Linked DNA regions of Homo sapiens: regions 1, 2 and 4 are each linked to region 3. Evidence: fine-mapped expression QTL. A gene starts in region 3. Each other region holds a variant in brackets. All regions are shown on one strand. Distances are from middle to middle. Region 1 overlaps ENTPD4 (ectonucleoside triphosphate diphosphohydrolase 4). Region 2 has its middle 16 kb from the start of LOXL2. Region 3 holds the start of ENTPD4 (ectonucleoside triphosphate diphosphohydrolase 4). Region 4 overlaps SLC25A37 (solute carrier family 25 member 37).

What was found. PIP is the estimated chance that this variant, and not a neighbour inherited with it, causes the effect. A credible set is the group of variants that fine-mapping cannot tell apart.
Region 1: its variant is the best candidate, but not a certain one, in a credible set for the expression of ENTPD4 in whole blood (TOPMed, PIP 0.75).
Region 2: its variant is the best candidate, but not a certain one, in a credible set for the expression of ENTPD4 in blood mononuclear cells (TOPMed, PIP 0.75).
Region 4: its variant is the best candidate, but not a certain one, in a credible set for the expression of ENTPD4 in whole blood (TOPMed, PIP 0.56).

What each region holds. Positions count from the first base shown.
Region 1 is chr8:23,426,086-23,434,021 of GRCh38, forward strand. ENTPD4 (ectonucleoside triphosphate diphosphohydrolase 4) reads right to left here. Exons shown (of 13, transcript NM_004901.5): 13 at 3,077-7,069. The coding sequence ends at 6,841. Among named protein-coding and RNA genes, the nearest start is that of LOXL2, 26 kb to the left of the region's middle. The variant G/A (reference allele first, on the strand shown) is at 4,500.
Region 2 is chr8:23,416,293-23,424,228 of GRCh38, forward strand. No RefSeq gene overlaps it. Among named protein-coding and RNA genes, the nearest start is that of LOXL2, 16 kb to the left of the region's middle. RefSeq lists enhancers at 1-97, 5,930-6,430. The variant C/T (reference allele first, on the strand shown) is at 3,722.
Region 3 is chr8:23,454,650-23,462,585 of GRCh38, forward strand. It overlaps ENTPD4 (ectonucleoside triphosphate diphosphohydrolase 4), which reads right to left and starts at 2,998. Exons shown (of 13, transcript NM_004901.5): 1 at 2,908-2,998. It overlaps ENTPD4-DT (ENTPD4 divergent transcript), which reads left to right and starts at 3,122. Exons shown (of 5, transcript NR_186533.1): 1 at 3,122-3,340; 2 at 4,565-4,705. RefSeq lists an enhancer at 165-666 and a silencer at 2,532-3,211.
Region 4 is chr8:23,529,403-23,537,338 of GRCh38, forward strand. The region is part of intron 1 of SLC25A37 (solute carrier family 25 member 37); the gene reads left to right. Among named protein-coding and RNA genes, the nearest start is that of SLC25A37, 4.4 kb to the left of the region's middle. RefSeq lists a silencer at 1-87 and an enhancer at 588-657. The variant G/C (reference allele first, on the strand shown) is at 4,814.

The DNA.
Region 1 (7,936 bases), 29 kb before region 3:
AGACTGGAGTGCAGTAGCACAATCTTGGCTCACTGCAAACTCCGCCTCCTGGGTTCAAGTGATTCTCCTGCCTCAGCCTCCTGAGTAGCTGGGACTACAGGCGCCCGCCACCTTGCCCAGCTAATTTTTGTATTTTTAGTAGAGACAGGGTTTCACTATGTTGGCCAGGCTGGTCTCAAACTCCTGACCTCGTGATCCGCCTGCCTTGGCCTCTCAAAGTGCTGGGATTACAGGCGTAAGCCACTGCACCCGGCCTAGAATAGATTTTAAAAGATTTCTTTCATAAATTTTAGAAACCTAAAGAGGTGATTTGTGAAAGAAACCAGATTTTCATTAGTTTACAAATATTTACAAAATACTATGTACTACTCGGTGTCTTCTTTACTGGATTATAAATGTAGAAACATGGAAAGTAAACACAGGACCTGTCATGGTCCATGTTCAAGGACATTTGGGCCAGAAATAGATACACTGATGGAAAACAGGGCCACGGGAGGTGGGAGAGAATTTAAACGTGTAATTTGAACATTAAACAGCCAGGAACTTCCAGAAAATTCTCTTGTGCTGCCATGACCAGTATCAAAGAACTTTACAAGGCTGAGGAGAGCCCACCAAATGTTTTAAGTGTTTTGAGTCTAAAATCTGGGTATTAAAGCTTGGGCCAAGTGGGAGAAAAAGCAATCTTAGGAAAAGAAAGTGCTAAGTCTGGTCCCTGGAGTTTAAGGCTTGTGTAATGACAGGCAAGAATAAGGTGATTAGGCCCGGTGCGGTGACTCACGCCTGTAATCCTAGCACTTTGGGAGGCCGAGGCAGGTGGATCACGAGGTCAGGAGATCGAGACCATCCTGGCTAACACGGTGAAACCCCGTCTCTATTAAAAATACAAAAAATTAGCTGGGTGTGGTGGCAGGCGCCTGTAGTCCCAGCTACTAGGGAGGCTGAGGCAGGAGAATGGCGTGAACCCGGGAGGCGGAGCTTGCAGTGAGCCGAGATCGCGCCACTGCACTCCAGCCTGGGCGACAGAGTGAGACTCCGTCTCAAAAAAAAAAAAAAAAAAAAAAAAAGATGATTAATATTTTCAGAACTGTCCACTTCAAACTCTGATTCTCATGAAGGCAAAAAGGGTGAAAGGTAGTATTCACACTCCCAATTAGAAGCCTGAGAGAACAGCAAGAACAGCTGGCACAAGGATGTTGTAGAAATAACACAAGAGAAGACCCACACTGGGGATTCTAAAGCTGCTCCTTTGTGTTTCGATGGCGTTGCCACCGACAAACCTTTCCCCTTCCAGTCACACAGGGGCCACTGGAATCCCAATCCCTTGACAAAACACCAGATGCCTGAGATGTTTATTTGATGACTGGTTGAACGGGAGGAAAAAAACTCCTTTTCTCTCGTCTTTGGAGTTCACCTACTTAAACAAGAAGTCTGTCTTTTGTGCCTGTCACCATCGTGTTCTGTGAGGAGGTTTCAGTCCTTTACTCAAGGCAGAAATCCTTCTTAAGCCTTGATTTTCTTGTTTGGGCCTCTTACATGAAACAGACACAGGCTGTTGACAGAAATGTTGAAGTGGCCATGAAGTCTGGAGCCCGGATGTCGTTCACCTGCCAAACAGTGTCAAGGGTGAAAGGCAAAGATCGAAGGCCAAAGTGCCCCTAGCGTCCCCTGCAGCAGGTCTCAGTCAACCTTAATAGATCTATTAATAGAAAGAGGCTGGACTGCGCAAGGGCAGGGGGACTAGCCTGGCTAAAAGCAAAATAAAACACATCAACAGACACACTCTTCTTTTGTTAGGAGGAGGTGGGATCACAGGCCCACATGCTCCCAGACGAGGTGGGGCCAGGAAGACTCTCACAGGATTGCCTTTCATGCTGCCACGGATGGATGCTCCAGGCAGATCCACTCTGCCAAGGCGTGCTTTGGGATTAGCCGGGCACTCCTTTGTCTTTTCATGACGTTTCCAAAAGAAGACACTGTGACTCTGACAGAGGTGACCTGCACCTCACGACCCCCTCTGTGCAAACCATTAGCATTTCCGGATCTCAAAAAAACCAAAAAAACCCACAGGGCACATGCCAATTCATAGGACAAATGGAAACAGACTGAAAACAAAAACACAGAACCATGGCTTTTCAGACCTGTCAACATGGTTAGTGTTGGAAATAGGCACTGACTTCTCTTCCACCAAGTGGAATAAAAATTTAGATGTCTTTTAACATCTTAGATATTTTAACGTATTTAAAGTCAGGCAAAAAGCCCTATAGTCATTGCACTGCCTCAAAAATTATTTACGACAGTTCTATCTTAATGCTGTGTCCTGTTTTCCTAGCGATCAATGGCTTGAGGACCTCCCTTGAGCTCACTTTGCTGGCTCTGTTCTCTCATTTTGTTTTTGCGCTTCCCTCTCCTCTCCGGCATGTCTCAGGCCTTTATTTTTGTTGGTCCTAACAGCTGGTCCCCTTCCCTTCCCATCTGTCTCTATCATCTATTTTCAGGTTATGGCTCAGGCCCACCTTCCTGCTCCAGGAGAACATCTATGTATTCTCCAACGGCTGAGAAACATGCTGAGCGTCTAATGTCATCCTCCATATTGGTAACACGTAACATTAATAATGACAGTCATAATTTTCTGGAAGTAAGCCAAAGGTTCTAAGCTTAGATCGAACTGCAAAACAGTGTAACATAAAGTCAGCATTTGCTGTTACTATTAAATACATAAAAATTGGTTAATTTTATTACTTTTCCTTGTCTATATACAAGTAGGTACTTAAAATGGTGACCTTATAAACAGTCATCTCAGAGTGGCAATTATTGTTGGTGAATGGCTTAACGTCGTGGGTTGGTCACTACTTGTGAAATATCTGCTTTCTGAGCTGCAGAGAGTGTGGACGCCCTCTCCACAACCCCACACAATTGTGCTTCACTGTATGCACACCCAACACAACACATGCAAAGAGTGTGCGTCAGACTCAGACAATGTATTTCACTGAATTTGGACTCAAGTTCAACTCATCATTCTAATGAGTAAGAAGATTCAAAGATGACAAGGAAGCAAGCCCACACAGTCTACGGGCCATGGGATGATGAACTTTCGTTTTATTGATTTTTCAGTACCCAAGTGTGGCACTGTAAGGCTGCCACATACAGCAAGTGACATGACACCAAAAGGACCTTCCGAGAGTATTATTCTTACTTTGGATGGAAGACATCGCTTAAACAAAAAACATTTAAAGATGCTCCCTTGCTTTTTATAATTCCTAACTGTAAAATATAATTTTAGTACAGAACAAACAAATTCTCCTTGGTTGGTCACATCATTCATTATTGAAAGGGAAACTTAGTATCAAAAGAAACAAAACACTGAAATAAATAACTAAGTAATTTACTGAAAGGTAGTTTTGTTGCATTGCACACAACTGACCGCAGAGAATTCTAAAGCTGATTTTTTTCTTAAAGGATGAAAAACTCATTTGCCATTTTTAGTTTCTTGCTAAGTGATACATGCTCCTTATAAGGAAAACTACTCTGTGTAGGCCTGAGTTTAAAATGTAAATATCTGTTTATCCAGAGTTTGTTAATCTAGAGTACACAGATGTGGAAAACTGGTGGTGAAAAGAGGGACCTACCCAGCCTTCAGGGTGGCTGGGCAGGGGCCCCATGTTACTGGCCTCAGCCACCAGCAGCGTCTTCACTCCGCCCAGGTCAGAAAGCACTGCCTAAAGCCGGAGCTTAGGATGAACATGGGCAAAAAGCACTGGTACAGTTCCATGTGTTTCTCTTCTACTGTAATGTCCCCAGAGGGATTGTGAAATGTCTGAGAACATCCCCTGGAGGAGGTTTAAAAGTGAGAAGCCCATGATATGGCTATGGAACATAAGCACTTATTGCTGGCATGTTTCTACCAAGATTGAACACAATGCTTTTCTTTGATAAAGCTTTGGGCAAGTTCCTAGTCCAATTTCTTCTGCTACAAGTACACAGAATTTACTGCCTTCTTGGTCAGCTCTTGGTATGAATTCTTCTCTTGAATTAAGATCCTCCCTGGCTTGTCTCTCACCCACCCTGTATCTCTTAGAGAAAGCACCTGGCTGTCTTCACCTACGCGAGACCTTCTCTGGAATGTGATTTGCTGCGACTGCAGACATCTCCATACGGCATAATGAACTCCCTTGAGTGGTCTCTTTTTAAACAATTTTGGGTGAGGGGCAGGTTTCTTGGTTTGTTTCAAAACTCATCTTGAAAATAATCTAGACGGAAAAATCCGAAGTGAAATTCTGGTGCAACAAATATTTTAAGATTGAAGTTTGGTTACTTCTCTTGTCCATCTTTTCGTGCCCACAAATGGAAACTACATTCCTGATTTAAGAGGATGCTTCTGTCTGTATCCTTTTTTGAACTGCATTGTTCTCACAAGGACCAGCAAACTTTTTCTGTAAATATTTTAGTAAATATTCTAGGCTTTACAGGCCACATATAGTGTCTGCTGCATATTCTTCAAC[G/A]TTTTTTCTTAGGCAACTGTTTAAAAATGGCAAATCCACTACTACCTCTCAGCTGGAGCAATGAGGTTTTCTCAGCCCTTGTTTCAGGATCCTCAGGTATGTGACTAACTCTTCTATGCCCAGAGCTGGAAGGCGGGGTCCCCTAACTCCCTGGGTGCCCACCTGCCCACTTCAACCATTTGTGGCCCCTTCCTTTCCTTTCTTCCCTCTCTGCTGCTGACACCAGTGGCTCCATCGCCAGCTCCCTGCAGCCTCCACCAATAATCCATGGCTCCTCCAGGAAGTGTCGCAGGCAGGTGGCCAAGACCAACTTATTAGGTAGCCAGAAGCTCACCCCTTTCTTAACAACTTTGACCACGAAGCGCAAATACGATGCAGGTAAATCCAGAGGCAGAGCCTGGGTCCCCAGGCTGCTGGTAACACGCTTTGAAATCCAGGTGAGGGAGCCATGCCCCCACAGCTCTTGCCTCAAGGATCAGATGCATTTTACCTTCCAGAGACGCAGGTTAAGCTGCACCTGAGGCAGTTTGAGCCACAACTGGGACAGAATTCCCTTGGTCTTCTCTTCTGATCCCTCAGCAGAACTGCCCCTAATGCTCAGTTCATGGCAATACAGGCCTTTTCTCTCCTGTTTCTCCAAACTCTCCCAGCCTCTGCCCAGTACCTAGTTCCAAAGCCACTTTTATAATATCCTCAGTTATCTGTTATAGCAACAACCCCACTTCTGGGTACTAATCTGCTACCAACTACAGGAATTTAACTGTTCTGGAGTTAGGGAACAGCACACACAGACACTCGCACAAAACAAACTCCACCTAAAAAAACTGTACGAGAATTCCCCAAACTTCTCAACTAAATAAATAGGTGAAAAAACACCAATCTCACATATGCCAATCCAATTGTCCTTTTTAGATTTTGGCTTAAATTGTCGAATTTTTTCCTTCAAAATGTGAATTTATTTCCTGTATTGGATGCAGACTCTTCCCTTCTGGATTTACAGTGGTGCTGCCAGCAACAGCCTCAGTCAATGCGGTTAGGAAGAGGACTCGGCAGGCTGTGCATGGGGTCTCCCAGTACGATTAAAAGCTGAGATGACTTTTAATTAAGGGGGGTGGGGGAAACACCAATTGGAAGCTGGAAGAAACTGAGGCACGATTAAGCAGAAACACTGAGGAATACTGAGCAAGAAGTGGGCATGTGCTCTAGTTCCAATAAAACCGAAACTGGTGAAACTAGGAATTTCCAATTCTTTCAAAACCACAGTGTTCTAATGCCACTGAAATATGGAATAAGGAGCGTAATTACCTGCGGTCAGGAAAAGATAACAGTAACGAGGATTTTTCTAAATAAAATGTACCAGTAAATTCTGAAGTGTGTGTTTTTAAAGAACCAGCATTGCCTCCCCTCACGCTGGTTTCTTGGGATTTTTCACACACTCGCACAAAGCTGTAGTCGATAGTTCACTATCACTTTTATAAATGGTTATCTCCTGGTGCCCATGTTTCTCTGTTTTGGATATAAATGGTTTAAAAAATTTAAATTTGCAAAGAAAACATATACAGTAACAGACCTGAACAATAAATAAAAAAAAAAATCACCCTCTTCAGGTTAGAGCTTTCAAGATAGAGAAAAAAGAGGATTATCATTTCAGGCAGTAAGTTTTTTGGTTCTATGAAAGCATCACTATTCAGTCCCCTCTCCACTGACAGAATGCATCTTTCCACCTCCCTCCAGTATCAAAGTGCATGTGTTTAAATTTAACATTCCTTAGAGAAACCCCAGAAATCTCATTTATTTTTGGCAGATATCCTGTGCAGCAAAAATCAAGTGAATTTCCCTCTTCCCCACTCCTCAATTTAATGCTGTACTCAAAATGGCTAAACGCAATACTTCTAGACAGCAGGGCTTATAAACAATGCATTTTTTTTTTTTGAGACGGAGTCTCACTCTGTCGCCCAGGCTGGAGTGCAGTGGTGTGATCTCGGCTCACTGCAAGCTCTGCCTCCCAGGTTCATGCCATTCTCCTGCCTCAGCCTCCTGAGTAGCTGGGACTACGGGCGCCCGCCACCACACCCAGCTAATTTTTTGTATTTTTAGTAGAGACGGGGTTTCACCGTGTTAGCCAGGATGGTCTCGATCTCCTGACCTCATGATCCGCCCGCCTCGGCCTCCCAAAGTGCTGGGATTACAGGCGTGAGCCACCGCGCTCGGCCTGCATTTTGTTTTTGTTTGGAGGAACAAAAAAGGGAAAGAAAAAACAAAACCACAGGAAAATAAAGAGGAGAAACCCTGAGGCAAAAATGGCTTTTCCTTTTGAGTCTTCGTGGAGCTGTGAGCTGGATCACAAGGTCCCCGGGGCATTCTGGGCGGGAAGGCCCTCCTCCATCCAGAGGGCGGCGGCCGAGCTGCTCCGGGGAGTGCGCCTGTGGATGCGCCGCAGCCGCAGCAGGTACAGCAGGATGGCCAGCAGCACCACCAGGAAGCAGCCAGAGAACAGGTAGTGGTTGTAGACAAAGGAAACGCCCCGCCAGTGGGTGTGACTGGCTCGGAAGGCCTCCTGCTGGATGTCTCTGCCCATGTGAACACCAAACAACAAACAGGACAGTAAGCAAGGAAAGGGGTGGAAAGGGTGCACAGGGGGACGGCGGGACCCAGGCCCCAGAGCTGCACTTTAGGAACTGCAACCCTACCTCTGAAATGGAGAACGGAACAGCCCAATGCAGGGGGCTTCTAAGTATCAGTGAGATAACATGTGAAAGTATACTCTGAAGTCGGTCATTATAATTTGGGCAACCAAAATCAGAGGAATTTAGAAGAGCCGTGAAGGTTTCGCTGATACAAAGAAGTCAACATGTAAACAAACTGCATGCTTGTGATCAGTAACACCCATGACTCACCATTTTTACAGTTAACCCAGTTAAAAGGGTTGCTGAGAAATGCTCAATTAAATGGAGGGGGTGGGGGGAAGAGCAAATGTCTCATCTATCAGGTAACTCAGGTTCTTAGCACAGGTCAACTGACAGCAGATCTGCAAACGTGAATGGGGAAAAACGCACATCTTTGTTCTACCCAAGCGCTGACTGAGATGTAGCATTTCTTTGACCATGAATGCAGACAACAAACTATCATTAGCGTTGGCAGCACCTGCAACTTTGTTACTAACGAAAATCACAGATCTTTCATGTCCCATTATGGTATCATCAATGCCTCAAAATATCATTGACGCTCATTGACTACACTGAAATTACAGAAAGTGCTAATTCTGCTGCCAGATCCTGTTATTTAATGTGTTAATAGAGAAGAACACATATTACAGTATCACAAACTTGTTTTCTGTAATATTTTGGTATTATTTCAATATGATGGTTTCTTCTGTAATCCTATGTATTTATACATGCATTTAAACAGTATTTGGAGAAGAGGCCTGAGTCATAAAG
Region 2 (7,936 bases), 38 kb before region 3:
ATGGGCTGGCGCTTGGCAAGGCCCACGCTCCGGGCTGCAGCCCAGCACAGCCTCACTGGTCTCCCAGAAAGCATATGAGATGCCTGCTCAGGGCGCTCAGGGTTGGCTGAGGACACAGCCTGACTGCTCTGTTCCAGTCACTGGTATTTATGAGCCTCCTGTGAGCCCAGACCCAGGTCTGCACCACAGGGGAGGCGGGAAAGGTACAAATTCTGCTCTGCCCGCCAGCCCCCTGCACTCCAGGAGGTGCCCATGGTGGGCAGAGGATGAGATGTTCAGAGGAAGCCATGGTTCAGGAAAAAGAGCCCCCAGACCTCAATAGCGTTAGCAGCAAAATAGGACGAACACGTCTCTGGACTGAATTATGTCCCTTCAAAATTCGCATTAAAGCGGTAACTCCCAATGAGATGTTATTTGGACATGAGGTCTTGGGGAGGTAATTAGGGTTAGATGAGGTCATGAGGAAGGGCCCTCAGGATTTTATTTTATTAGTGGCTTTCTATGAAGAGGCAGAGAGAGAAATCACTCTTTCTGTTTGCCAGGAAAGGTCCAGTGAAAAGATGGGTCTATGAACCAGGAACCAAATTGGCCAGCATCTTGACCTTGAACTTCCCAGCCTCCAGAACCATGAGAAATGTCTGTTGTTTATGCCACCCAGTCTGGTGTTTTGTCATAGCAGCTGAGCTGACTGAGACAAACATATGAGTGGTGTTCCCTTCCCAGCCTTCCAGCCACAGCTGGCTGTGACCAACACTGGGACACTGGAGACTTTGCTTCTCTGTTCACCCCCTCCACAGTTTACCTTCCTGCTCTGGGCCAGCGGTTGTTCTAGAAGTATGGTTGGGGACCACTGGGAGTTACCAAGACCCTTTCAGGGGGTCCACTGGATCAAACTATTTTTAAAATAAAACTAAGACCTTATTTGCCCTTTTAATTTCATTTTTTTAGAGCTGGTGATATGTCAGGAGCAGCTGGAGCCACTTCCTCCAAACTGACCAAGACTTATCATTGGGGAGAGCTCCAGGGACATCAGGCAACTTGGATTCCAGTCTTAGATTTCCCCTCAGGAAATGGGGCATTGACTTAGATAACAAAGCCTCCTCCTCACTGTAAAAATGGCATTGTCCCATTTTCCCTGAATCTTGGTGTTCTTTTTCATAGATTGAGATATAATTTTATATCCCCTACATATCTCACAAAGCTGTTAAGGAAGCCAAATAAATTAAATGTGAATGTTCTCTAACAAGAGAACATTGTTCCGTCATTATTAGGTGTAATTATTAAGAGAGGCGCAATGCAAGGAGAATCAGGAAATGAATATCCCTGCCATCCCAAACCACTGACTTGAAGTGAATTCCTCTCCAGCCTGTGACTCACGCCTCACCAACATGGGCTAAAACCTGCCTGTGTGAGAGTGAGGGACCCTGGGATCTGCCCACCCACAGGTCTTAAGCCAGCCTCTGCTCTGGCAGGGTGTAAACACCCAGAGTAGACAAACACCAGAGGAAGAGCCCTGGATGTAGACACCCAGGGGAACTACTATCCACGGGAATAAATTGGTCCCATTACCCCATCCCTGTGGCCCCTCCAACAGTGGAGCTGCAATGAGAGGTGGAGGAAAACTTCACCTTTCTTGTCTCTTCCACTTTGTAGAGTTCACCCAGTATCTCTGTATTTCTGCTATAAAATGACTACTTTTGGCAGTGATTATGCTGCAAAGGTCACATTGTCTTTTCAGCAGGGCAGTTCAGGTTGGAACTAAACTGGGTTGCGCAGCCACTGGGTGGTGACATTGTTTCTCTGCAGGTGACCTCCAACTCCAATCATGGGATGCCCAGACCTGCCCAGACCTTGGCTGGGCTCTGAGGCAAACCTTCCAGACGGGATGACCGAGGCTGCAGTTGAGGCCTGAGTCAGGAAAGATGGAGCAGGAGATAAAGTCCTGGGCTGGAAAAGAATGAATGTCACAACTCTCTCCATTTTACAGACAGTGGCTCCGAAGGGCTTTCATCACACGCATCATCTTGGAGCCCCTCGACCTCTCTGTGAGGCAGGTATGACAGGAGTTCTTACTCACATTTTATAGGATTGGAAACTGAAGTCCAGAGAAGTGACATGGCTTGCTGAAGGCCACATTTGAAGTGACAGAGGCAGGGCTTGGCTGGGCCTTCTGACTCCAGGCCACAGCCAGGGCTTTCTGAGTGCAAGCTCCTTTCATCAGATGCTTACTACAAATGATCCAGGGCGCTGGGCCATGGGGACACGGAAATAAAGATTACGTGGGGTCCCTGTTCTTAAAGAACTCAGCAGGCCGGGCACGGTGGCTCACTCCTATAATCTCTGTGCTTTGAGAGGCCAAGGTGGGAGAACTGCTTGAGCCCAGGAGTTAGAGACCAGCCTGGGCAACATAATGAGACCCTGTCTTTACAAAAAATGAAGAACTTAGCTGGGTGTGGTGGCATGCACCTGTAGTCCCAGCCACTTGAGAGACCTAGGCGGGAGAATTGATTGAGCCGGGAGTTTGAGGCTGCAGTGAGCTATGATTGCATCACTGCACTCCAGCCTGGGTGACAGAGCAAGACTCTGCCTCTAAAGAAAAAAAAGGAAAGCTCATAGTCTTGGAGGTGGGACAGAGGGCAGGGTGACAAGTATATAAACAGACACTTCCAATGACAAATTCGATAAAAAGATGCCATGCGAGCAGAGAGAAGGACCTGAACTCAGTCAAGCAAGACTTCCAGTTGGGGGTTGACGTGTGTTCCCCCAAAAGTTATGTTGAAGTCCTAACTCTGGGAGCTCTGAATGTGACGTTGTTTGAAACTGAGTCTTTGCAAACGCAGTAAATTTAAGATGAAGTCATCAGGGCAGGTCCCTATCCAATATGACAGGTGTCCTTATAAGAAGAGGAAAATGCCACGTGAAGACCGAGGCAGAGATAAAAGTGACACAGCTGCAGGCCAAGGACCATTGAGGATCGCTGGTCACCGCCAGAAACCAGGAAGGGGCAAGGAAGGATTCTGCAAGGTCTCAGAGGGAGCGTCGCCCTGCGGACTCCTCAACTTGACTTCCAGCCTGCACAACTGTGTCTGTGCTTTTCCACATTGTAGGCCCTGCCTTCGTGCTGTTAATTCTGCCCACCGCGTTTTCCTGTACGGTCCCCTCTGAAAGCTCCACAGCCTTTCCTATTGAGCTCAAGTGTCCCCTGCTCTTGGTAAGTATATTCGCCTCCTAGGGCCCTCATGACAAAGCACCACAAACTGGGTGGCCTCAATAGCAGACACTTATGCTCTCACAGTTGTGCCCCTAACACAGGAGAAGCTAGATACCTCTGGTGTTTCAGCTTAACGCTTACAGCTAATTGCAGTCATTCAGGTTTTACAGCTCACAGCCTCAGATCCTATTAACTTTGTCTGTGATTCAGCTTATGTTGTAAATGTAGCCAGTCGCATAGAAACTGCCACAATTAAAAGTACACTAGACCCAGAACTGCTTAATTAGTTAATTAATTAATTTATTTTTGAGATGGAGTTTTGCTCTGTTGCCTAGGATATAGTGCAGTGGCACAATCTCAGCTCACTGCAAGCTCCGCCTCCCGGGTTCACGCAATTCTTCTGCCTCAACCTCCCGAGTAGCTGGGACTACAGGCGCCCGCCACCACGCCCGGCTAATTTTTTGTATTTTTAGTACAGAAGGGGTTTCACCATGTTAGCCAGGATGGTCT[C/T]GATCTCCTGACCTCATGATCCACCTGCCTCGGCCTCCCAAAGTGCTGGGATTACAGGTGTGAGCCACCATGCCCAGCCGCTTAATTTATTTTTAAGACTTCAACAAGTTATTCGTTCTCATGCAGCTCCTTTTCATATTTCTCATATTTGCTCTCACACACAACTTCCTGGACCCCTATCTCTAGGTAATGAGAAAGCAGACAAACTGATTGGTTCTGTGTTTCGGCAAGCTCAAGCATCTCATGCACTTCTGCACCAAAATACTTCCACCCTTACTCGCATGTTCCATTTATCTCATAGCCAAGCTAGGGCTATAATACAAGCCTGTCCTACTTGCCAGCATGTCCCTGGAACTATACCTGTAGAAGGCTGTAACCCACGAAGTTTGGCTCCAAATGAAATTTGGCAAATGGATGTTGCACACATAGCAACCTTTGGTAAGCTTAGCTACGTTCATGTGACTATAGACACTTATTCTCATATGCTGCATGCTACATGCCAAACAGGTGAGACAGCTGGTCATGTATGGCCACATTGTCTGTCATCATTTGCTCACATGGGGATACCTAAACAATTAAAAACTGACAATGGACCCACTTATACTAGTCATGCTTTTCAAAATTTCTTACAGCTTTGGGCTATAACCCATAAAACAGGAATTCCTTATAATCCTAGAGGACAAGGCATTATAGAGCAGGCACATCAAACATTACAACGCATATTGAAAAAACAAAAAGGGGGTATAGGAGACCAACTACCACCTCAATCAAAACTACATTTAGCCTTACTTTAAATTTTCTGACTCCTGGTATGGAAGGTAAAGACTCCAGCAGAAAGACATTGGCAAGTGTTAGAGGAAAAGAGGAAAGTTTATCCGAAAGTGTTACGGAAATCCCCGGAAGAAGGCCAATGGAAAGGTCCAGTGGATTTACTAATGTGGGGAAGAGGGTATACTTGTGTTTTTGCAGGAGATGGATGAACTGTGTGGGTGCCCTCAAGGTGCGTGCGACCATGGAATGGGAGACTGGAGGAACCCAGGGTGGCCAACCATGGACCCGGTCCCGGTATGAGCCATGAGTCAGCTGAGCCTGAATGCAAAGACGGAGAGAAGGCCGACCGGAGTCACAACACAGTTCTAAGGTTACATTTGTAAAGAATATCATCACTCAATTTACAGTTTGTGTTTTTAATCCTTATGTCTTTTTGGCAGCTAAGAAGGACCAGCTCCAGGTAAACAATACCCAATTGACCTGTAAATCTTGCCAGTTATATCACTGCACTAATCATAGCACATTGCAAACACATAATATCTCTACTGTGATGATTTTAGGTGGTATCCCTGGGCTAGGGATTCCTGTTAATCTGTCTGAGCCTTGGGCTGCCACACCTGCTTTGCATTTTGTGAAACTTCTAACTCAGCTGACTCATCGTGCCCGTAGAGCCTTAGGCATGATAATTTTTGCTACTGTTTACTTGGTCATGCTAGTAACTTCTGTTGTGATATCTTCTGTAGCTTTGCATAATTCTATTCAAATAGCTCAGTACGTGGAGAACTGGACGCGCACAGCTGACCAAGCGTGGCGACTTCAGAATAAAATTAACACTGAGCTACAAACTGAAGTGGCAATGCTGAAATCCACGGTTCTGTGGTTAGGGGCACAAGTACAAAGCTTGCAGTTGCAGCAGTAATTGCGCTGTCATTTTAATCACACTCATATTTGTGTAACCAACTTAGAATACAACCAAAGTGAGTATCCGTGGGACCTTGTGAAAGCCCATTTGCAGGGAGCGTTCACATCCAACATCACCTTTGATATTGGTGAATTACAAAACAAAATTCTTGATTTAAATAGGCAAACTCAAGAATTTCAGCCTTCTTTAGAAGACGGGACCAAATTCCAGCAAGGCCTGGAGAGCCTCAACCCTTGGACCTATCTAAGGCACCACATTAACATCTTATATGTAGTTCTTGGAATAATGTTGTTTCGTCTCTGTCTTCTGTTTATAGTCTGTAAAATCGGATGGACTGCCAATCGGAGAATGAGAGCTGCCCAGCCTGGCCTTACATTTTTTCAATTAATTCATAAACAGAAAGGGGGATATGCAGGGAGCCGAAGGCCCATGGGATGTGACCAACGCAGCATTCCACTGGAGGCTATATGATCCAACAGCAAACTGTTTATCATGAATGCAGGATGTGAGAAAACTGACGACTGCTCCTGCCGACAGAAGGTTTGCTGGAGGCAATCACTCCCTGGCGCTGAGGTTATCTACTGCAACATTTAGCCTGTTGTTCGAGGAATGCAGTCTTGCAAGCCTGCTCTAGACTGAGCAGCTGACCCCTTCTTCCACCCCGCTTCTCACTATCTCTTTTGCCTAATAAATAAGGAGGGCTGTATAAAGCTCAGGGCCCTTGTCCACTAGGGGCAAGGTACCCCCTGACCCCTTCTTCAAAATATACTCTTTTGTCTCTTGTCTTTTATTCCCGTGTTTGCCCCGCTTTGTTCAGTCCCCCTAGGTCCGTGCAGGTTACAGTGGAATCCGTATTCACGTGCATATTCTGGCTCATTTCATACTACAGAAGCAGTGAGGTGAGTTTTGGACAGAAGTCATGTGGCCTGCAAAGTTAAAATGTTTATTATCTGGCCCTTTAGAGAAAAAAATTGCTGCCTGGTCTGAAGCGGCATTTTTCAAATGTGAGCATGCATTATGAGTGACCTGGAAGGCTGGCAAAATGAAGAATTTGATTCAAGAGGTCTGAGACCAAGCCTGAGATCCAGCACTTCCGTCAGGCTTCAGTGATGTTGATGCTGCTGATTCAAGGACCACACTTTGAGAAGCAAGTACCGAGAGCAGCTCCGTCTGACGGAAATATACTGTGAGCCACACAGGCAATTTAGAGTTGTCTAGTGTACACATTAAAAAGGTAGAAGGAAACAGGTGATGTTAATCCAATAATATTTTATTTAACTCAATATACCTAAAATATTGTCATGTCTCATGTACCCAATGTAAAGAAACTGAGATATTTCATATTTTTTTTACATGAAGTCTTTGAAATCTGGTGTGTCTATATCTATATATAGACAGACAGATATAGATATATATTTTTTTGAGACAGAGTCTCACTCTGTTGCCAGGCTGCAGTGCAGTGGGGAGATCTCAGCTTACTGCAACCTCTGCCTCCCGGGTTCAAGCGATTCTCCTGCCTCAGCCTCCCGAGTAGCTGGGACTACAGGCGCCCACCACCATGCCTGGCTAATTTTTGTATTTTTAGTACAGACGGGGTTTCACCATATTTGCCAGGATGGTCTCAATCTCCTGACCTCGTGATCCGCCCGCCTTGGCCTCCCAAAGTGCTGGGATTACAGGCATGAGCCACTGTGCCCGGCCTGAAATCTGGTGTATATTTTATACTTACAGCTCATCTCAGTTTAGATTGGCCTGTTTCATGTGGCTAGTGGCCGTCATACTGGACAGTGCAGCTCTAGAGTACAGAATGGAGCCAGGCTGCCTGCGTTCAAATCCCAGCCCCACCACTGGCTAGTTCGGTACCTTGGGCAAGTTGTGTGCCTTTTCCACATCTGTTTCTCCACCTGTAAAGTGACGGTAATCAAAGCACCTCCTCATGGTGTCATTTTGGGGACTGACATGGTTAGGCTTTGTGTCCCCACCCAAATCTCATCTTGAATTATAATCCCCACAATCCCCACATGTCAAGGGGGAGACCAGGTGGGGGTAATTGAATCATGAGAGTGGTTTCCCCTGTGCTGTTCTCGTGATAGTGTTCTCAGGAGATCTGATGGTTTTATAAGTGTTTGGTAGTTCCTTCTGCATTAATTCTCTCTCCTGCCACCTGCCAAGGTGTCTTGGTTCCCCCTCTTCACCTTCCGCCGTGATTGTAAGTTTCCTGACGCCTCCCCAGCCATGCTGATCTGTGAGTCAATTAAACCTCTTTCCTTTATCAATTACCCCGTCTTGGGAAGTTCTTTATAGCAGTGTGAAAACGAACTAATACAGGGATTATGTAAGCTAACAAAGAGCTAGAACAGTGCCTGGCGTGTAATAAGCTATCTTTCTGTTATGATGACGGTTCTGCACAAGAAGCACCTTCTTTCCCTCTAATAAAGCAAGGAGGTGGTGCCATCTTTCCTGCCCCCATCCCTGGGGCCAGACTGTGGAGTTTAGCATGCTCTCTCAGTTCTCAGCCTGGT
Region 3 (7,936 bases):
ACCGAGAGAATGATCACAGCGCACTTAGGAAACTTTGTGTCATCTGAGGTTTGTCTCAGGAATTTTTTTTTTTTGAGATATGTGATGATTTTGATCAAAAGGACAAACAGATATTTTAAGTTACAAAGCTTGTGTTTAAAAGCAGAGAAAATAGGACAGCTTATAACTGCTGAAGCACTGTAATTTTAACTCAGGACAAAAGTACAATGGATTATTGCCTAAGAGTTAAATGGTAATTTGATCTTCAAATGTAAACTCCAATTGTCCTTCTAGCTAAGAATCTTCGCACCAGGGCACTGGGAGGCAAATTCAGTAATACCACATAAAACTGACATGTTTTAAAAAAGCCTAAATTGTGTTAGACCTATCACCAGAGAGATGCATTAATTCTCATGATTTCAGCTAGTGGGGCCCTACTTGGCTGAACATTATTGGAATAAAGCCTACAGTCAGGTGTCAATGTCTTTGTCAGTCTCTCACTGACAGTTCTACAGATAACGACGAAAACAATGCAAATCAACCACAAAGGGAAATGGTTCCTCTGGTGGAAAAACACAAGATGCAAGGAAACAGATGTTAGTGAACTCAAATCACAGGCAAACAAAATCACAGAGAAGTCAGCCTCTGGGAGAGCTCAGCTTCTGAATAAGCAAAGGTACCACAGGGAAGGGTACTTCAGAAAAGAATGATTTGAATATCAAAGGATTCAAGAGAACCTGGAAAAATTAAAGATGCTCTCAACCATTCCGGCAGCGTTTTGCAAGAAACAACTGTCTTTCTGAGAGTGAGAGGCTGATGTGGAGGCTGCCGGGTGGCACCGTTACTCAGTAGTGACAAAAGATACATGAAGACAACTTGATTCATTCTTTAAGAAGATATGTATGTAGTTGCATTTATGATCTGTATGTTCAATATTTATCTTACACATTTTAATTTTATTTTTCAATATAAAATCTTAACCTCTTCCTCCCTCTATTAATTTGCAAAATTCTGGTTCCCATTTTAAGTAGTCTTTTTCTGGTCACTTTTCCTGAATTAACTCTGACTTTCCTCAAGTTCCAGTTCCACGTTCCAAGCTCATTGAAGCCCTGTTACTGCAAGCTCAACTAGTCCAACTCTAGGGTTGAAATCTTCTAATGCAAACTCTAATACCACCCTCCAAATTCTCCAGGTCTAAGACGGGTACCACCAATCCCCATTGACCTGGATTACCTGGTTCTCAGCTTTGATTCCCACATCCGGTGTTGACAATCTTCTATCATTCTCCAAGCCAGTCGATTCTTCCTCAGATATCCCTCATATCTAAGATGACCACAGCAGGCACCACTACCTCAAGACAGATCTCTTGGCGACTCACCCACCTTCTGCCTTCACTGTGCACGCCACACTTTACAAGCAACTCTTTGTAAAACACGGCCTTCAAAATATGATCAGCTAAGAACCTTCTGGAAGGCCATGGATCAACACCAAGTTTCCTGTGTGGCACCTGAAACCTTTTATCCATCAACTGGTCCACCTTATCTCACCAACCTATCCTCTCATCAGTCCCAGATACCATCTCTCAGCTCCAGTGCAGCAGGTCTCTCTCTTCTCTCCCACACAAGCTGTCTCCATGCCTGCCTCAGGCATTTACTAACAGCACTTCCTCCGAGCCACCACCGTGTCCTCCTCTCAAGACTACACTTCTTTCAAGGCACAAGTCAACATGTTTCTTTGTCAAGATTTAACCTGTTACACATCCTGATGTTTTCTTACAATTGGAATCGTCTCTTTATTCATGAGTAGTCTATTTTAAATAAACATGCTGAGTAAATACGTAGAGAATATAAATCCTTAGATAAATGTTCATTTTTGTCTCCTTCCTAGACTATATCCTCAAGGGCCTCAGTCACACATTTCCTATTAGAGGTAGAAGAATATAAGCCATAGATTCAACATGCAACAACTACAAGACCTCTGTTAAGGTAAACAGAGAAATAAACGATTCAACTACACGAATTAGTGTTCCATTTTATAATTCTACTATGTCAAACAGAATTAACAAACCTGATACAAAAACATCAAATATATGGTAACACAAATAATATAACTCTTTTAGGCCTCTCTAAAGCTGGATAATTTGGTATTTTCATCACAAAAAGGAGACAACAAAGACTGCAATGCGAAATTAGCCTGGGCTTTGAGTGTCTAATTTAGAATTCTTCCATTACCTCTAGTTTACCTTCTAGCCTGAAAGTTCCTGAATCATAAAGGATCTCTTTAGTTTCCTTCGTGATAAGTGTTCTCTGAAAACGCTCTGCACTAGGGTTCATCTAACTGGGGTCTGAAGCACCCTAAGGGTTCTGGGACACATTCTAGACCATGAGAGAATTGTTCCTTTAAAAGGGGTCCGCGCATTACTCAAGTTCAGAAACAATGCTGTGCATCATCACTTTACTGCCCAATAAGCTCCATTTTTCCAAGAAGAAATCTAACATGAAATCTGGCAAAAGCAAAGCAAAGCGAAAACGACAAGACGAGCGAATGTCATCATTTAAAGCGGCAGGCAGGGCCGGCTGGGTCCCGGGTGCAGCATCCCTGCTGCCCGGTCAAGCTCCGCCCATTCGAGGGGGGGATCCCGAGCGGTCACCCGAGGCGCGCGACCGCCAGGTGTCCCCTGCCAGGGGCTGGGGGAGCGCGCCGGCCGCCAGGGCTCACAGGGGTTGGTCCCGGGGCGCTCGGATGTGGCCGCGCGGCAGGGGAGGCGGGAACCGGTCCGCGGGGCTAAGCAGGCGGCTGTGGGGGCCTGGGGCAGAGAGGCTCGTCCGCGGCCCGCTCGCCGCGCCGCCGGCCCCCGCACTCCAACCCACTCGCCGGCCCCTTCGGCCGCCCGCCCTCCCCTCACCCACGCTCGGAAGGCAACCTCACCTGCTTGGCCGGCCGGGGACCCCGGGAGCGGGGGACCACCAGTGGGCAGCATCACGGCCAGCCGGCTTCCTGGAGGCCGCGCTCCTTTCCTGGAGCCGCACCCCCGCCCGGCCCCCGCCGGCAACACGTCACCGCCTGCGCCCGGAGCGCGCCCGCTGGCGGCGGGAGCGCGCACGCCGAGGGGCGCGTTGAGCGCTGGGGGGCGGAGCCTGATGCGGGATGATTGGCGTCCGAGCGCTGGGCTGTTCCGTGGACCCGCGCGGCCACGCCAGTGTGCTGTGCACGGGAAATGTGGACGTGGGAGCACGGAGGCACCCAGTACTGTGGCGTGGTGCTCGTCTGGTCGTCAGCGAGCCTCAGCGTACTTAGGACACCGCAGTTTATCTTTCCTTAGCGCTCCTAACGGTTATGGAAAATAGCGCTTGAAAACCTGGTAAGGACTAGGCATTGTTGCTCAACTCTTGACATTTACACCTTTGCCGGTAACTCTCCCTGTTTCACAGATGGGGAAACGGAGGCTCACACTTATTCAGTCTCTCTTGAGATCCACCTGATTCGTGAGAGGTAGAGCCAGGATTTCATTCTTGCCCGTCGATGGCATATGTTAGTGCCTATGTTGGGGGAGGCAGACTGCCCCAGCCCTCCCCAACACACGCAATGGTTATGAGAAGAAATAAAGCGAAGGGTGTTCCTGAGATTGACCCCATGACCTACACTTAGTACAAGGCTAAGCTCTCTTAGCTCTCTGGCTTAGCAATAAACTGCTTTGAAGACACAGAACTTTGCACTTGAGAGCCGGAAGAGACCTTGGGAATCCCGGGTTCCATCCTTTCTTCCACCTTGTATACAGGTGAATGCACTGTGGCCCAGAGATAGGAAGTGACCAGCAATCCAGCCACTTTAAAAGATTTTTAAAAACAAGAGCCCTAGAAACGTCTACTCCATTCCATTTATCAAGTAAAACAAGCATAGACAGAACTGGCAGTTCTACATCTTAACACAGAATCCTTCTTGGTCCAGCACCCGCCTGGGTCACCTCCTCTTCCTGGATTCAGCTACTGTTAACGGAAGAAACCATGAAGCCTCAGAAGGTTAGAGCCAAAGGGACTCTACTGTGTAGCCCCAATCACCTTCTTTTACAGTTAAGAGCCTGGAACCCAGAGAGGTTGAGTGACTTGGCCAAGACCCCCTGGAGGCAGAGGAGAGCAGAACCAATGTTTCAGACTCCCACATGACTTGCGCATCAGTGTCTTTTTTTTGACAATCTGTTGCTATAAGAAATTACTCGTTTGGATAATTTTCACACTAGAAAACCCTGTGACCCAAGGCTAGCATTGAGAAGCTAAAGCTGGCCACTGACATACTGTGATTTTAAGGACAGTCTCCTTCGAAATTATCTGCCTTTCAAAATCTTTGCCATTGGAGACACTGGTTGGGGTTATGTTAGTCTTCCTTAAGGAGGGCTCTACTAAAATGCCAGACTAGGCCGGGCATGGTGGCTCATGCCTGTAATCCCAGCACTTTGGGAGTCCAAGGCAGGTGGATTGCCTGAAATTAGGAGTTCAAGACCAGCCTGACCAACATGGTGAAACCCCATCTCTATTAAAAATACAAACACTAGCTGGACATAGTGGCTTTTTTGTGCCTGTAATCCCAGCTACTCAGGAGGCTGAGACAGGAGAATTGCTTGAACCCGGGAGGTGGAGGTTGCAGTGAGCCGAGATCACGCCAATGGACTCCAGCCTGAGCAACAGAGTGAGACTCCATCTCAGAGAGAGAGAGAAGAAAAGCCAGACTAGTAAGTATTATCACACCATCCATATTTCCTGATAATTTATATGTAATAATTGTCTGATAAGAGCTAGGAAAGAAAAATATAGGAAAGTATGGAAACGTGTAACTTGGCATATTACATTCTAGAGCTGCAGTGACAAATTGCCCTAAACTGGGTGGCTTAAAGCAAGATAATTTATTGTCTTCCAGTTCTAGATGGTAGAAGCCTGAAATGAAGGTGTCAGCAGGGCTGTGCTCTCTCTAAAGATCTAGAGGAGGATCCTTCTTTGCCTCTTCCTAGCTTCTGGTGGCTACTGGCCATCCTTGGCCTTCCTCAGCTTGTAGATGCATCACTTTGGTCTCTGCCCCTGTTGTCACATGGTATTATCTCTGTGTGTCTGTGTCTCTGTCTCCAAGTTTCTTTCTTCTCATAAAGACACCAGCCATATTAGATTCAAGGCTCACCCTCATCCAGTGTGATCTTATGATCTCATATTAACTTGATTATATTTGCAAAGATCCTATTTCCAAATAAGGTCACATTCATGGGTTCTGGGTGGACATGAATTTTTTGGGGGTGGTCACTATTCAACTTAGTACATGAGAGGACCATCCTGGTCTGGTTCATCAGGGAGAGCTTCTTTGAGGTAACGCTGTCTGAGGTCACACCTGCACAATGAATGGGAATTTATTAGAATTCTGGGCCTATATGAAGGAATAGTATTTCAGTCAGTGGAAACAGCAAAGAGGCTCTGAAGGGGCCCATTCTCACTTGTTAACAAGAGAAACAAAAACTGGAGCTAGGCTGGGCGCGATGGCTCAAGCCTGTAATATCAGCACTTTGGGAGGCCGAGGCGGGTGGATCACGAGGTCAGGAGATCGAGACCATCCTGGCTAACACGGTGAAACCCTGTCTCTACTAAAAAAAAATACAAAAAATTAGCTGGGCGTGGTGGCAGGCGCCTGTAGTCCCAGCTACTCAGGAGGCTGAGGCAGGAGAATGGCGTGAACCCGGGAGGCGGAGCTTGCAGTGAGCTGTGATCGCACCACTGCACTCCAGCCTGGGCGACAGAGCAAGACTCCATCTCAAAAAAAAAAAAACAAAAACTGGAGCTAACAGGAGGGAACACTTACTAAGTACTTTATGCCAGGCATGGTTGTAAGAACGTTAGAAAACACGGCATACAGAATGATAATGAAACTGCATCAAAATATGTGGAATGCAGTCAGAACAGTCCTTCAAGAGAAATTTATAGCTTTAAAAGTTTATTTTAGTAAAGAAAAAAGGTTTGAAATCAATTATCTAAGTTTCCACCTTATGACATTAGAATAAGAAAGTGAATTAAACTCGAAGTGAATAGGAGGAAAAAAATAATAAAAAATAATATGAGACATTAACCAACTTACAAGTTGGTTCTTTGAAAATATTAACAAAATTGCTAAACTCCTAGTGAGATTGAGCAGGACAAAAAAACACGAATAACAAATATCAAGCATAAAAGAGGAAGATCCCTACAGATATACAGAAATTGAAAATATAATAAGAAAACATTATGAATAACTTTATGCTGATCATTTCGATAATTTACATTAAATGGAAAAAGTCTTTGAAAAATACAACTTCCCAAAACTGGCACAGGAAGAAATAGAACATTTGAATCACCCCATATCTTTAAGGTCCTAAAAAGAAAATTCCAGAGCAAGATGGCTTCACTAGTAAATGTTTATCAATCATTTAAGAAAGGTAATATTGATTTTATATAAACTCTTTTGAAAGAACAAAGGAAGAGAGAACACTTTTTAATTTATAATTCAGAATAATCCTGATACCAAGAAATAAAAAGGAAAGAAAATCACACACCTATATTTCTTACATAGGTGCAAAAATTTTAACAAAATATTGGCCAATCAAGGTCAGGTGTAATGACTCATGTCTGTAATCCCAGCACTTTGGGAGGCCGAGGCAGGTGGCTCACCTGAGGTCAGGAGTTTGAGACCAGCCTGGCCAACATGGTGAAACCCCATCTCTACTAAAAATACAAAAATTAGCCAGGCAAGGTGGTGGGCACCTTTAATCCCAGCTACTCAGGAGGGTAAGACAGGAGAATTGCTTGAACCTGGGAGGTGGAGGTTGCAGTGAGCTGAGATTGCGCCACTGCACCCAGCCTGGGTGACAGAGTGAGACTCCATCTCAAAAAAACAAAAACAAAAACAAAATTGGCAAATCAAATCCAGCGACATCTGAAAGAGCAAGATAGCATTACCAGGTGGGATTCTTTTTTGAGGAATGCAAAATTGGCTCAACATTTGAAAATCAATCAATGTCATTCACTACATAAACAGAATAAAGAAGAAAATTCATATGATTCGTATGATCTCAGTCAATGCAAAAAAAAATTTGGCAAAATTCAACACCCATTCATAATTTTGAAAAAAAGCCTTTATCAACTATAAAGGGTATGATTTTCCTCAGCTTGATGGAGCATCTACAAAGAATACAGCTATCATGGTTGTAAAATCAAAGTAACTCATTTTGTGCATGGGACTTTAAAAGTGTTAAATGAAATATTGAACAAATATGTGATACCTGGAGATACATGACCATTTTGCAACCATGGGACAACAGTCATCCTGATAAGAGCCAACAATAAATACGATGGAACTGAAAGATAGAACTGTTTGGGTCCATGATGGCATCATTAAACCGCTGAACTAGTACCAGTGACTGTGTCTACCCCCTGACTTCTTATTAGGAGAGAAAAATAAGCTCTTTATTTGTTTAAATTTCTTTTGGTTGGATATTCCATTACTTGTTGTTAGGTCTTTAAAAATATTTGTTGACTGGTTGGGTGACTTGCTCAAGGTTATAAAACTAAATGGGAGACAGGATGACTTAATGTAAAAAGTACCAAGCCGGGAGGCAGGAAACCTGAATCCTTATCCTCAATAGACTGTGTAAGCTTAGAAATTGTAGTTTGCCTTACTGGTCCTCACCATCCATATATAATTTGTAAAAGGAAAGGGGTTTGTGGAGATGGCTAAGCTGACCTTTAACGTTCTTTCCAGGTCTAAAATCTATGATTTCTAAGAGGCAAAAGAGAAGACTAGAAGTAAGATTTTCCCTTTCTCTCTTCTCCTTTCCCTCCCTGCTGTGGTCTGAATGTGCCGCCCAGTTTTCATGTGTTGAAACGTAATGACCAATGTGATTAGCATTAAGGGGTTCTGCCTCTCAGCATTAATTAAGTCATGAGGGTGG
Region 4 (7,936 bases), 75 kb after region 3:
GGGTGCCCGGTCCTCGCCCCGCACCGCCCGCTGCTCCAGCCGCGTGCCCGGCCCCGGCTGCTGGCGGCGCTGAGGCGGGGGAGGCGGAGTGGCGAGCACCGCTGGCTTCGGCGGCGACTGGGCTCCCGGGGGACGCGATCGCTGAAGCTCTGCACAGTCTTACCACGCTGGCCGTTCGGGCTGGCTGGGGCCGCCCACACGTGCGCGGTTTCCGAGGGAGCTCCCCGCAGGGGAAGCCCTCACCACGCTGGAGCTGAGAAACGTGTGGCCCTGGCCCGGCCGCGCGCCCTCGGGACTTGGTGTGTGGCTGCTGCTCCCCGGGTTATTTCGGGAACTTGGGGCCGGCAAGTCTTCTCTCGACTAGTGGCAGCTCTTTACCGGTTCGACAGCGGCCCGTGGGATCCCCTTTCTGAGGGTTCCTGCACTTCTTCCCCCGACTTTGGGTCGCCGAGCCGCCGGGAGGCAATGACGTTTGCCTTCTCCTTTTGCTTGCGGGGAGGTGGGTGGGCTTGTGCCTTACAGCCCTTGCTGTGGATTGTGTGAGAGGCACTCAGTTTCCTTTAAACCCTGTCTGTCACTTGCCCCGGTAGTTTTAACTGCATTTCTGTAAAGAGGCAGCGTTACTAGGTGCGTTTTGCCTGGTAGACTGAGACCTGCCCTCTGTCAGCCTGCCCAGAACACCCCAGGGCCAGGATAGAGTAGTGCAGGAAGTAATGCCAGTATTGACTGTTACACGTTGCACTTTTATAGGCATAACTCGCCTAATTCATGCAACAGCCCTGGGGGTTAACAGATGAAGAAACTGAGGCGCAGAGAGGCGAACCGATTACCTTGCCCAGGCTCCTACACCACCTCCTATCCTCTGGCTGCAGCTGCAGTGTGCTTTGGAGGATTCGGAGGCCTCTCTAGGTGGCAATTATTTTGCAAGGCAGGTCCCACAGAGGCACCCCCAGCAGCTTTATCTTGTTGCTGATGCTGGTCCTGCATGAGCAGGTATGAAGGCCAGAAAGTATAACTCAGAGGGTTTTCCCGGCTCCGGGGAGCTCGCTTGGAGCCAGCAGTCAGTGTCTGGACAGGCAGAAGTCCAGTGAGGAAAGACATGGGCTTCCAAGGTGCTGCTGGACCTAAGCCTGAGCCATCACCCATATGTCCCTCCAGTGTCCCAGTGGGGAGTTAGAGGAATGGTTCTCATCTCCAGGAAAGACACTGGACTGATACCAGGTGGCATTTGTATGGGAAAGAATCCCTCAAATGTAATAAAATTCTCCATGATTGAAGCTGTTGTCTCAACTGCCCTGGGCAGAGTCTGGGGAAAGTTAGGAGCAGGGAGGTGTTATCTGAGCAGGCCCTAGTCCTACTGGTGTCTTGAGATGAATGTTCTATTCGGGAACCCCACAGTGAGTTCACTTTAGAGCATCATTTTAGCTTATTTTTAGGATTAGAAATAATTAGTTGTGCCTTCTGAGCACCCTTTGACACTCTCAAGAGGCGTTTCTCACACGTTTAAATTGTGTGATCTGTGTTTAGTTTCTCCCTGCCCCATACATGTTGATATGTTTTGGTTCAGATGTCACCTGTATACTTAGTATTACTTTCCATAGCAGTTTTCACCTGTGGACAGGTTAACATGGTGTGAATGGTAGAAGGAGCCGGTCTGGTTTTCCTAGACAAGTCTGTAAAACAAGGCGTGGGTTAGCTAATCAGTGAAGTCTTCTAGGTTCTGGGATTATAACTGACCCTTAGGGGCCCTTCCATGCTGAAGTGTGCAGGGTTGGTTTTGAGGCTGCCACTGAGTGCCAAGGTCTGCCAACATCAGCACAGTTGTCTGCCAAGCATGAGGAGTCAGGGGTGCATCCTCCATCATGGAAAGGCTTGGGGGAGACCACACCTGTGTTCCTCTTAAGTATTTTGGATGATGGCGAAGACCGGGAGTAACTGAGTCAAGAAACCCGGGTTGGGCTTCAAGCCCTGCTCTCACTTGCTTCATGCCTCGGGCACTGTTCTGTGCCTTAGTTTTGTCACTATAAAGTGGGGACAGTGGACCTGCTCAGTCCCTCTCCACATTTTTAACCCATGCCTCGTTTCTCTGAACACACAACACCCATCGTCCTCTTTTATGTTACTTGAAATATCAAAAGAATTATTACAGCTGAAAACAAATCTATGTAAATCGGATCTTGAAAGAGAGAAAGCTTTCTCCAGTTTTGAAAGGCGCCATTTTTAACTTTGATCTTGTAATGACAAATAAGAATGTTGAATCGGCTGGCTTTTTTCTATCCTAGGTAATGTGGACTGTGGAGCTCTGTGCTGGTCACTTTCAACCCTGAACCTGATGCTACTTATTTTGCAGTTCTAAGTGCAAAGTCGGCCTGGTGGATGCTTCCCATTATAATATTAAATTTGCTTCTTCGTGAGGTCACACCTCACATCCCCAGTGTCACTTTAATAACTAGTGTTTTTTACATGGTGGGCCATGACCCATTAGTGGACTCTGCATTTAAAAATAAATAAATAAATAAAAGAAGTTATTAGTGAGAGTGTAAAAATACGGGTGTGCCTGGCATGCAGTGGGAGAAATGTTGAAATTCTGTTTGGGTTGTGTGTGTGTCTCTGAGTGCATTTTACAGACGTGTACAATGTACTTCTGGCTGGGAGTTGTGGTCAAACAAATATGAAAACCACTGAACCTGAGAAAATATCTCTGGAGCCCCAGCAGGCAACACTGAGATTATGAAATGGGTATTTGGAAGACCTTTGGCAACTTTCCTGCTGCTTCCTGTGTCTTCTTCTTTCCCTTGGTCCTCCCATGGTGGGATGTGAGCACTCATTCATCCATAAAGGGCCAGTCTACTGGGACCTTTGGCTGCCCCTGCGATGACAGTGAGCAGCAAAGTGATACCCAGGGAGGGAGTATAGGGTCTCTGCAGGGCTCTCACCAAATGGTGGCAATGACTTACTCCTGTCTAGGCGGGGTCTGGTGGCAGGTTTTCCATGAGCCTCTTTCTGGTGTTCCAGAGTGGCAAGGGGCACTTGGGGTGGATACAAGAACCCCTGGTCTGATCAGGAGAGCTCAAGACTTGAGGAGCATGCCAGGTGGGTGGAGGAGGAAATTCCAACCAGATTAGGCACACCACTCGGAGACCATGCCGAGTCCCGCCTGGGGAAAGCAGGGGCAGAAGGAAACAGGAAAGATTTGAAGCCGGGGGACTTCCGCTGACCCTTTCACAACCCTTCTTTTGCTTTGCTGTTGGGGGAAACCCTGCCTGTGACTCTCCTAGGATGAGCCCTCCTTCCCAGGTTGGTGCACCACGGAGCGTTCCCTCTAGGAGCCTCCTGGCTGACCTTATGGTGTGCACAGCCAGCCTGCCCAGCTCAGCAGAGCATTACCTCAACTTCTGACTTCTCCTCTTCTGAGTTTTCTCCTGGCTGCAGGCAGACTGGTAGGAAGGGTGCTGGGGGGCAGTGCAGGCAGCTGCCAGAGTCCCCTCCCACCCACTTCATTGCTTTCCAAACAAAGTGCAGTTCGGTCCATGCCATTCAGCTTCAGAAGGGCGTGAAATCCCAAATTGCTCTAGTTCCTGGGACAAAACTATAATGATTTTTCTCTCTCCCTTCTTGTCTCCTCTCCCTCACATCCCCCTGCTCCCTTCTTTTCTCTCCTTTGATGAGAGGTGATTTTCTTAAAAGGCGAATTTGGAACGAGGAATCAAAAAAGGGGTATTTGTGAGCTGCAGTCCTGTTCCTTGTTTCATGAACCCCCAGGCAGCCATGGCCTGTACCCCTCAGGCCTACCCTGAGGAGTGTGAGAACCTCATCCACTTTTCTCTGCCCTAAATTGGGGAGGGGCAGGCTGGAGCGTGGTTTGGAGGCGCGTGCCCAAGAGTACTGTGAACAGCAAAGGGGGCCTCAGCTTTTTAGTAGGGAGAGGTATTTGGGGTTGAATGGGAGGATTTAATCAGCTGCTTTGCTTAAACTATACAGGGGTGTGCACCTGGGGTGGGGGATGTGCGTGTCACCTGGAAGGGAGGAATGTGCTTCCCAAACCTTTTCCTGGCTTCCACTTGGGCACGTTTCAGCTGCATGTGGCCATCTCATTAGAGATGAGTTTTGTCCTGTCTTGCAGCAGTGACCAGTCTTGGGGAATCAGTTCCACTTTCTCTGTTTTTTAGTCTTGGGCTTCTGACTCTCTCTGACTTCAGGGGTTTCCTTCTTCTGACTCATCGGATGAACTCACCTGCTGGTGTGGAAGCCTTCAGCATCTTTCTTGAACCCCAGAGCTTTTTGGCTCTTTTCCTGTCTCCACTAGTACGGAACCTTTTCTTGTCAAAGAATTTGTGTTTTTGTTTTTGTTTTTAATCCGAAATACCGGCTGTCATGTCCCATCCATGCTGGCCACAGACATACCCCTGTGATCATGGTGTTGGCTGGACCATGCCAGGATGCATGGCTTTGCCACTCCCATGCCCACCTTGAATGTTGTGTCTGATGTTTGTCATAGGAGGGGTATATCCAATCTCTTTCTCTTTTTTTTCTCCCTCTCTCTCTCTTTTTTTTTGTTTTTTTGAGACAGGGTCTCGGTCTGTCACCCAGGTTGGAGAGTAGTGGTGTGATTGCAGCTCACTGCAGCCTTGACCTCCCAGGGCTTGAGTGATCCTCCCAGCTCAGACTCCTGAGTAGCTGGGACTACAGGCACATGCCACCATGCCTGGCTAATTTTTTTGTATTTTTTTGTAGAGATGGGGGCCTCAATTTGTTGCCCAGACTGGTCTTGAACTCCTGGGCTCAAGCGATCCTCCCACCTTGGCCTTCCAAA[G/C]TGCTGGGATTACAGGCATGAACCACCATGCCCAGCCTCTTTCTTTTTGTTGAACTGGAAACCTTCCCTAAAGTTCCCTCAACCTTCCCTCAAGTTCCTACTGAGATGGATTTCCCACCCTTAGAGAACTATCTTGGGGTTCAAATTCCAGTCTTTGACTTACTGGTTGGGCAGGACACTTAGCTTCTTCATGTCCTTACTTGTCAAATGGGGATCCTGATTTTCTTCCTGCTTTCTCTTTCCTGACCCAGCTTTCCATTGCTTCTTTCCCACTTCTCTCATTTTTCCAGTGGGCCTTGTGGAAGTTCCTTGTTAACAAGCTCCCTTACATCTTCCCCTCTTTACCGAATGTTTCTTTCACTTCCCCCTCCTGATGGAAATCCAGCTCCTCTTGCTAAGGGTTGGGAGCATGGACCCTTGAGTCCAAATCCCTGGACCGGGTCCCATTTCCCAGTTAGGTGTGACCTTGGGCAAGTTTCTTAACCTTTCTGTGCTATTTCCCTATCTGTAAAAAGAAGAAGAGATGGTACCGATCTCCCAGGGTGGTTGTGAGGAGGGTTAAGCCCTCGCTGCACTTCACATGCCTGGTACACGCACAGAACAGTTGATACTCTCTGATGTCTGCTCTCATCTTTATCTTCATCATCATCAGCATGATTGCCATCACTTTCTCTCATTCCCTGAGGACTCTGGCATCTGATGCACAGACTTCACCTCCACAGATCCCGTCCTCACCCTGAGGATGGCCCCTCTTCGTCCCCACCCGACTCAAGTCCAAATCACTCCATTCCTTACACCTCTGAGTCAATGGCCTTCACCTCCATGGTCCCTTGACCTAACTCAGAATCTTCCTGAGATCTTAAATCCAGATTATTATAGCCTGGACCCCAAGATTGACTGCTGCAGCTGCTGGGGCCTTTAGTTTCTCTGCCTTTGGTTCTTCCAACCCTGGCTTGCCCCACCTGGGTCCTGGACAGCCCATCTGTCCCTTGGGCAGCGAAGCCCTTCAGGGGACATTCACACTGCCTCCAATGCGCATGCTCCCTGGCCTCAGCTCCACATGTCTGGGCAGCTGCTTGCATCCTTCACGAGGGTCCTGTTGCCCCTTAGCTCCCCACCCTATTGTTGTCAGCCTCAGCCTGGCATCTTGCTTCCATGTCATAGGGAAACCAGGACCTCAATCAAACCCATCTTCCTGTCACTGTCCTTCCAAACTCTCTTGCCTTCTACCCCCACTATAAGGGAACAGGTGTCTTCATTCCTTTAAGGTATATCAATGTGGCAGAGAAGGGAGATGTATACAAACCACCTTGACACCAGGATTTGAATACTGGCTGCACACCTGGGCACATTACCTAACCTCTCTAAGCTCAGGTTCCTTCTCTGCAAAGTGGGGATATGAATACTGTATTAGTCTGTTTTCAAGCTGCTGATAAAGACATACCTGAGACTGCGTAATTTATACAGAAAGAGGTTTAATGGACCCACAGTTCCACGTGGCTGGGAAGGCCTCACAATCATGGCAGAAGGCAAAAGGCACATCTTACATGGTAACAGACAAGAAAGAGGACAGAACCCAGTGAAAGGGGTTTTCCCCATATAAAATCATCAGATCTCGTGAGACTTATTCACTACCATGAGAACAGTGTGGGGGAAACTGCCCCCATGATTCAATTACCTCCCACTGGGTCCCTCCCATAACACGTGGGAATTATGGGAGCCACTATTCAAGATGAGATTTGAGTGGGGACGCAGCCAAACCATATCAAATACCAAGAGCTATTTTATAGGGTTGTTGTAAGAATTAAATGAGGCAACATATGTAAAGTTCTTGCCACAGTGCGTGGTGCGTACGTTGTCAATAAATGGTGATGGTGATGTCATTTTTGTCCCCTCACTCTTGAGTGACTCGGTTCCAGGATCTTTAGGCTTCCTGCTCCATTGAGTTTTTCTCAAAAGTGTTTCTACAGATCCAAGCCCATCCTGTCTTAAATAAACCCCAGACTTCTCACCTTGACCTCACATGCACCCCCAATGTTTCTTCCCATAAACAAACTGTTGCCCCTTTTTTTCCTCCTTAAAACAACACATGTTCTGAAAGAACTATTGACACTGGTCTCTACTTCCTCACTGCCACCCCTGCTTCCTGGCTTTTGCACTGCCCAGCCGCAGCCTCACAGAGACTTCTGGCTACCCATCATCTTCCTGGCCCACCCTGCTGCCTCTGTTCCTGCCAGGGGCACCTCCGAGAGGGGGTTGGCCCTGCGATCCTCAGTTTTCCTCTTTGGGCATGGCTTCTCCTCAGGAATGTGCCCTTCCACCTCATTTTCCCCAGCACACATGCCTCAGTTTCCTCCTGGGACCTGATGGCTCCCAGATCACTATCTTGGGCCCAGACTTTCTGGAGCTGAATCTCCAGTTGCCTCGGAGCCTCCTCAGACTCAGTGTGGCCAGAATGGTGGTCCTGGCTTCCCCTCGGGCCTGCCCTTCTGCCTCCTTCTGCACCCTGGGATGGTCATCAGCTTTTCTCCCACTGCTGCCCTGTATGCAGGGAAGGCCTGCCTGTGGCTGTATCTGTAGTACTTCTTGAATGTGTTTCCTTCTCTCCCTCCCCACAGCTACTTACTGCCTTGGTTCAGGGACCTGGATGTCTCCTCTTCCTTGAGATCCCAGACTGCCCAAGTTAAAAGTGAGTTTAGGCCGAGCTCAGTGGCTCACGCCTGTAATCCCAATACCTTGAGAGGCCGAGGTGGGAGGATCACTTGAGGCCAGGAGTTGGAGACCAGCCTGGGCAACATAGCGAGACCCCATAGGTACAAAAAATAAAAACATTAGCTTGGTATAGTGGTATGCGCCAGTGGTCTCAGCTTCTTGGGAGGCTGAGGTGGGGGAATTGCTTGAGCCTGGGAGGTCGAGGCTGTAGTGAGCTATGATTGGACCACCGCACTCCAGCCTGGGCAACAGAGCAAGACCCTGTCTCAAAAAAAAAAAAAAAAAAATGAGATTACTCTCCCCTGCCTCACATTTCCCTATTGCCCATTGCTGCTTTGTTTTTCTCCCCAGCAGTTGTTACTTCGTAACACACACCATCGTTTATTTATATTGTTTACATATTTTACTTAT